2 linked regions of the Homo sapiens genome follow. The gene in region 1 interacts genetically with each later gene. Each region holds a gene or a part of one and is shown in the gene's direction. Other genes may lie near its edges.

The links. Genes that interact genetically often act in the same process or in processes that back each other up.
Region 2: changes in KRAS (region 1) and ARPC2 are lethal when combined (synthetic lethality), as found in Homo sapiens cells (2 studies listed by BioGRID, with this or other methods).

Annotation. Positions count from the first base shown.
Region 1 is NC_000012.12:25,244,276-25,247,929, reverse strand, and holds part of KRAS (GTPase KRas), read left to right. Parts: intron 1-2,534; 5' UTR 2,535-2,545; coding exon 2,546-2,656; intron 2,657-3,654. UniProt on the Homo sapiens protein: Ras proteins bind GDP/GTP and possess intrinsic GTPase activity. Plays an important role in the regulation of cell proliferation.
Region 2 is NC_000002.12:218,234,070-218,237,723, forward strand, and holds part of ARPC2 (actin-related protein 2/3 complex subunit 2), read left to right. Parts: intron 1-282; coding exon 283-328; intron 329-3,654. UniProt on the Homo sapiens protein: Actin-binding component of the Arp2/3 complex, a multiprotein complex that mediates actin polymerization upon stimulation by nucleation-promoting factor (NPF).

The DNA of each region.
Region 1 (3,654 bases):
AGCCCATTACTTGGTAACATGAATAAAATATTTTATGAAAAATAACTATTTTCCAAAACAAAACCAAAACTTAGAAAAGTGGTATTGTTTCACACTTCAGTAAATCTCTTTAATGATGTGGCTTAATAGAAGATATGGATTCTTATATCTGCATCTGCATTCAATCTATTATGATCACACATCTGGAAAACTTGTGAAAGAATGGGAGTTAAAAGGGTAAAGGACATCTTAATGTTATTATGAAAACAGTTTTGACCTCTTGCACACCAGAAAAGTCTTAGTAACCTGAGGGGTTCCTAGACCACATTTTGAGAACTGTTTTAGGCTATGCAAACTGGTTGGGGGGAGGTTGGGGTAGGCAGAGAGCTAGAAGATACATTTTAGTGTAATTCTCCTCATCTATTCCTAATTGCTTTGGCCTACATTTGAAATAAAGCGTGGAGGCAAACGGGATAAGATACATGTTTGTAGTGGTTGTTAACTTCACCCTAGACAAGCAGCCAATAAGTCTAGGTAGAGCAGAGTAAGGCGGGGAACTATGCCGTGACCGTGTGTGATACAATTTTTCTAGCCTGTGGTGCTTTTTGCGGCAGGGCTTAGGAGTAAGGTTAGTATGTTATCATTTGGGAAACCAAATTATTATTTTGGGTCTTCAGTCAATTATGATGCTGTGTATATTTAGTGTTTATCTACAATATATGCACATTCATTAATTTGGAGCTACTCATCCTATAATAAATAGTTGTGCATTTACTCCCATTTTTTTCTGCATTTCTCTCCTTATTTATAATTATGTGTTACATGAGGGAAAGGAGGTGAAATTAAACATTCATATTATTTCAAAAAATTTGAAACAACTAACTAAAAAATATGTTTTATTTTCTGTATGGTGTTTGTTATACAATCTGTCAATATTCATGCACCTCTTGGGAGACAGTGTATGAAAAGCAAAGAGTAACAGTCACATGGATTACTGATTACTGAGATATATTCACTTGCATCTTTTTTTTTTTTTGAGACGGAGTGGCTCTGTCGCCCAGGCTGGAGTGCAGTGGCGTGATCTCGGCTCACTGCAAGCTCCGCCTCCTGGGTTCACGCCATTCTTCTGCCTCAGCCTCCCAAGTAGCTGGGACTACAGGCGCCCGCCACCACGCCCGGCTAATTTTTTTATATTTTTAGTAGAGACGGGGTTTCACCGGGTTAGCCAGGATGGTCTTGATCTCCTGACCTCGTGATCCACCCTCCTCGGCCTCCCAAAGTGCTAGGATTATAGGCGTGAGCCACCGTGCCCGGCTCACTTGCATCTCTTAACAGCTGTTTTCTTACTAAAAACAGTGTTTATCTCTAATCTTTTTGTTTGTTTGTTTGTTTTGAGATGGAGTCTTACTCCGTCACCCAATCTGGAGTGCAGTGGCGTGATCTGGGCTCACTGCAACCTCTGCCTCCCGGGTTCAAGTGATTCTCCTTCCTCAGCCTCCCCAGTAGCTAGGACTACAGGAGAGCGCCACCACGCCTGATTAATTTTTGTATTTTTAGTAGAGAGAGGGTTTCACCATATTGGCCAGGCTGGTCTTGAACTCCTGGCCTCAGGTGATCCACCCGCCTTGGCCTCTGAAAGTGCTGGGATTACAGGCATGAGCCGCCGCACCCGGCTTTCTAATCTTTATCTTTTTTTGTGCAGCGGTGATACAGGATTATGTATTGTACTGAACAGTTAATTCGGAGTTCTCTTGGTTTTTAGCTTTATTTTCCCCAGAGATTTTTTTTTTTTTTTTTTTTTTTGAGACGGAGTCTTGCTCTATCGCCAGGCTGGAGTGCAGTGGCGCCATCTCGGCTCATTGCAACCTCGGACTCCTATTTTCCCCAGAGATATTTCACACATTAAAATGTCGTCAAATATTGTTCTTCTTTGCCTCAGTGTTTAAATTTTTATTTCCCCATGACACAATCCAGCTTTATTTGACACTCATTCTCTCAACTCTCATCTGATTCTTACTGTTAATATTTATCCAAGAGAACTACTGCCATGATGCTTTAAAAGTTTTTCTGTAGCTGTTGCATATTGACTTCTAACACTTAGAGGTGGGGGTCCACTAGGAAAACTGTAACAATAAGAGTGGAGATAGCTGTCAGCAACTTTTGTGAGGGTGTGCTACAGGGTGTAGAGCACTGTGAAGTCTCTACATGAGTGAAGTCATGATATGATCCTTTGAGAGCCTTTAGCCGCCGCAGAACAGCAGTCTGGCTATTTAGATAGAACAACTTGATTTTAAGATAAAAGAACTGTCTATGTAGCATTTATGCATTTTTCTTAAGCGTCGATGGAGGAGTTTGTAAATGAAGTACAGTTCATTACGATACACGTCTGCAGTCAACTGGAATTTTCATGATTGAATTTTGTAAGGTATTTTGAAATAATTTTTCATATAAAGGTGAGTTTGTATTAAAAGGTACTGGTGGAGTATTTGATAGTGTATTAACCTTATGTGTGACATGTTCTAATATAGTCACATTTTCATTATTTTTATTATAAGGCCTGCTGAAAATGACTGAATATAAACTTGTGGTAGTTGGAGCTGGTGGCGTAGGCAAGAGTGCCTTGACGATACAGCTAATTCAGAATCATTTTGTGGACGAATATGATCCAACAATAGAGGTAAATCTTGTTTTAATATGCATATTACTGGTGCAGGACCATTCTTTGATACAGATAAAGGTTTCTCTGACCATTTTCATGAGTACTTATTACAAGATAATTATGCTGAAAGTTAAGTTATCTGAAATGTACCTTGGGTTTCAAGTTATATGTAACCATTAATATGGGAACTTTACTTTCCTTGGGAGTATGTCAGGGTCCATGATGTTCACTCTCTGTGCATTTTGATTGGAAGTGTATTTCAGAGTTTCGTGAGAGGGTAGAAATTTGTATCCTATCTGGACCTAAAAGACAATCTTTTTATTGTAACTTTTATTTTTATGGGTTTCTTGGTATTGTGACATCATATGTAAAGGTTAGATTTAATTGTACTAGTGAAATATAATTGTTTGATGGTTGATTTTTTTAAACTTCATCAGCAGTATTTTCCTATCTTCTTCTCAACATTAGAGAACCTACAACTACCGGATAAATTTTACAAAATGAATTATTTGCCTAAGGTGTGGTTTATATAAAGGTACTATTACCAACTTTACCTTTGCTTTGTTGTCATTTTTAAATTTACTCAAGGAAATACTAGGATTTAAAAAAAAATTCCTTGAGTAAATTTAAATTGTTATCATGTTTTTGAGGATTATTTTCAGATTTTTTTAGTTTAATGAAAATTTACCAAAGTAAAGACCAGCAGCAGAATGATAAGTAAAGACCTGTAAGACACCTTGAAGGTCATGGAGTAGAACTTCCATCCCAAGCAGATGAGGATTTATTTAATCTCAAAGACCTCCAGGAGGGGACATTCCCCAACTGTCCTTGTTAACTCATTTTCAGAACATATTTATTAGCATATTTTACATGTAATTTGGATCTTCATGTTAAATTTAACATCAGTGGAGATGGAAAATAAGCATATCGCCTTGTCTTTGAAATAGCCCTATATTGTTAGATTGTTTCTTAGGCTTCTTTACCCTGGGTTAAGCAGTCCTAATACTTTAGCATTT
Region 2 (3,654 bases), on another chromosome or scaffold:
CAGGCAGGAGAATCACTTGAACCCAGGAGGCGGAGGTTGTGGTGAGCCGAGATCGCGCCATTGCACTCTGTCCCAGGCATAAAAAGATACTCATCTCAGTTTTGTGACTTGTTTGGTGACTAAATCCACTTCCCCTCTGTCTCTACTTTCCCATCCACCAAATGAAAGTTAGGAAGAATGCCAACTTAGGAAGAGCTTGGCAAGTGCAGTACTTTAAAAATAATGAAATTATCATGGCCTTTGGATTAACGTATTTGGTTTTGTTTTGTTTTTATTTTCTAGTTATTAAAGAGGGTGTACGGGAGTTTCTTGGTAAATCCAGAATCAGGTATGTAGTCATGTGAGCAACTATGGAATGACATGGGAAGAGAGGTGTCCTTTTTATATTATGCTTTTTTTACCCAAAGGATTTCGTTTAAATATTATTACAAATATTTCTGCATGAGCCCATTCCTAATTTCAACTCCGTCCATAAAAATAGCTTTTAAGGGGCTTTGCTTTGTCCAATATGGAACACAGTAGAGGTACAAAATTGATGTGTGACATTTTTAACATTTACTTGATGGGGCCACATGACTCTTACTTAATCTTTCAGCCAGAGGGCCACATTTGTTTGTTCATGGTGATTAAAATGGCTTTGAAAAGAATGAGCAAACATTGATTCCCACCCTCGGCCCTTAGTAATTCTGCATACTACATATTTGGAGAAAGAAGAGGAATATTCACCACACTATTCTTGTGATTTCAAGTAATAAAAATCAGACCCTTTCTTAATCCAGTCTTCTAATAGGTTGTCTCAACATTCATGGCCAGAGGAATTGAAAGGCACCGTGTCATCCTTGAATAGAACAGCTATGTTATACTGCTTTAAAAAGGAGGTTTAAAGTGGAAAAACTGAACAGCCTTTTTACCCTGTGATTCAGTGGCATGTCTCAAATTCTGAGGCATTTAGCAGGACCCCAAAGTGAGAACCAGGTAGTAAGACCATTGGAACATAATATTTTTTACTCAACTATTACAACTTTGGTACCTTGATTAGAAAAGTCTTCTAAGAAGGAAGTTCTCTGTCACTCTTAACAGCAGTTACTTGTGCTAGCTTATTTCATCACCTCACCTATTTTTTCAGACAGTCTCATTCTGTTGCCCAGGCTGGAATGCAGTGGTACAGTCATAGCTCACTGCAGCCTCCTCCAAATCTTGGGCTCAAGCAATCCTCCCGCTTTAGCCTCTCCGGTAGCTGGGAACTACAGGCACATGCCACCATACCCAATTAATTTTTTTAATATTTTGTAGAAACAGAGTCTCACTGTCTGCTGCCCATACTGCCAAAACAGAGTAAGGAGGTCTCAAACTCCTAGCCTTGAGCAATCTACCCACCTCAGCCTCCGCCTCCCAGAGAGTTGGGATCACAGGCATGAGCCACCATACCCAGCACCTTTTTTTTTTTTAATCTCCAAATTGGCGGGATGAATGTGTCACAGAAATAAAAGCCAAGATAACACTGTAGGCTTTTGGCAAAATCAAGGTATTAAAAGAAAGAAACAAACAGATCTAGAACAGAAAAATCATGTCCAAAGTCTTGGGCATGCTTGTCACAGCCAACATCCTGACATGGAAAGTTTATGTTTCTGTCCCTGGGCCTCCTTCTACCTCCCACTAAATCATAGACATTGCCAGATTGCAGACCCTGTCTTCATAGAAGTGTGAAATGTAAAAGTGTGTGAAAGTAGTGTCTCAACCAGGTGCAGTGGCTCACACCTGTAATCCCAGCACTTTGGGGAGGCCAAGGTGAGTGAATTGCTTGAGCTCAGAAGTTCAGGACCAGCCTGGGCAGCATAATGAGATACCTGTCTCTATAAAAAATACAGAAATTAGCCAGGCATGGTGGCAGCCACCTGTAATACCAGGTACTCAGGTGGCTGAAGCACGAGAATCGCTTGAACCCAGGAGGCAGAGGTTGCAGTGAGCTGAGATTGCGCCACTGCCCTCTAGCCTAGGCGACAGAGCAAGATTCAGTCTCGAGAAAAAAAAAAAAAAGACCGTAGAGTCTCTCCTCCTCTTTTTTAATGGGTTTATCTAGGCACGTTTGGAAAACTCAGCAAGTTATACTAGATTTTTACTTCTCTTCATCCTCAGTATATTCTGTTCATCATGTTAGAAGCCTTACTTAAAGACAGACTTTACCTTAGCTATAGTTTTATTTGCTCTTATTTGGCTTCCTAAAACTAGCAAACCTCAGCTCTAAATCTTTTCTTTTTTAATCTAACCTTGTAATCTGTGTGCTTATTTGGTTTTCAAGTACCCAAAATAGAATGATGATTGATATTATTTAATACTGGAGTGCCTCTCCAGTATTAAATAAAATGTGCTAAGCATTATCTAGAGCAAAGATTTAGCCCATCCTCCCGAAGAGCCCATGCTCAACAAAAAACACAGACCTCAGCCGGGCGCGGTGGCTTATGCCTGTAATCCCAGCACTATCGGAGGCCAGGGCGGGCGGATCACCTGCATTCAGGAGTTCAAGACCAGCATGACCAACATGGAGAAACCCCGTCTCTACTAAAAGTACAAAATTAGCCAGGCCTGGTGGCGCATGCCTGTAATCCCAGCTGCCTAGGAGGCTGAGGCAGGAGAATCGCTTGAACCTGGGAGGCGGATGTTGTGGTGAGCCGAGATCATGCCATTGCACTCCAGCCTGGGCAATAAGAGTAAAACTCCATCTCAAAAAAAAAAAAATACAGATCTCAGGAATGCTTTTGGGAAAAAATGAAATAGTAATGAGGTTTCAGATACTTAGAAGTGTGAAAGCCATACAGTTCTGGTGAAGTTATTCCCGTCAGTTGCCTAGAATATAAAATGATCCTCAGTGATGTAGAAATATTCTTGCAAAAACATCTCTAGGCAGTTTGACACTTATTAATCATTTGATTCTATAATCAAGTGTTCCAGCCGGCTTCTGGGAATTCATAGTGGACATGCTGTAAAAAGGCAGGTCATCCAATGGTTTCAGTCCATGTTCTGCACCCGTATTGATGACCTGTCATGTTCCACACACTTTAAGTATTGAACATTCTTTTAATGCTCACAACATTCTCCCCTATCTCCGCACCCCCTGCCCTGCTCCTTTTTCTTTTTTTCTTTTTTTTTGAGACAGAATTTCACTCTTGTTGCTCAGGCTGGAGTGCCGTGGCGCGATCTCAGCTCATTACAACCTCCACCTCCCGGGTTCAAGCAATTCTCCTGCCTCAGCCTCCGGAGTACCTGGGACCACAGGCGTGTACCACCACACCCAGCTAATTTTGTATTTTTATTAGAGACGGGGTTTTGCCATATTGGCCAGGCAGGTCTCGAACTCCTGACCTCAGGTGATCCACCCACCTTGGCCTCCCAAAGTGCTGGGAATACAGGCTTGAGCCACTGTGCCCAGACCACCCTACCTGCCCCCCACCACCAATTTTTTTTTTTTTTTAACAGATGAGGAAATTAACAAGTCAGGCAATTTTTTTTGTTTTTGTTTTTTTTTTTTGGAGCTGGAGTCTCGCTCTGTTGTGCAGTGGTGCAATATCAGCTCGCTGTAACCTCCACCTCCTGGGTTCAAGCAATTCTCCTGCCTCAGCCTCCCAAGTAGCTAGGATTACAGGCGCCCGCCACCAT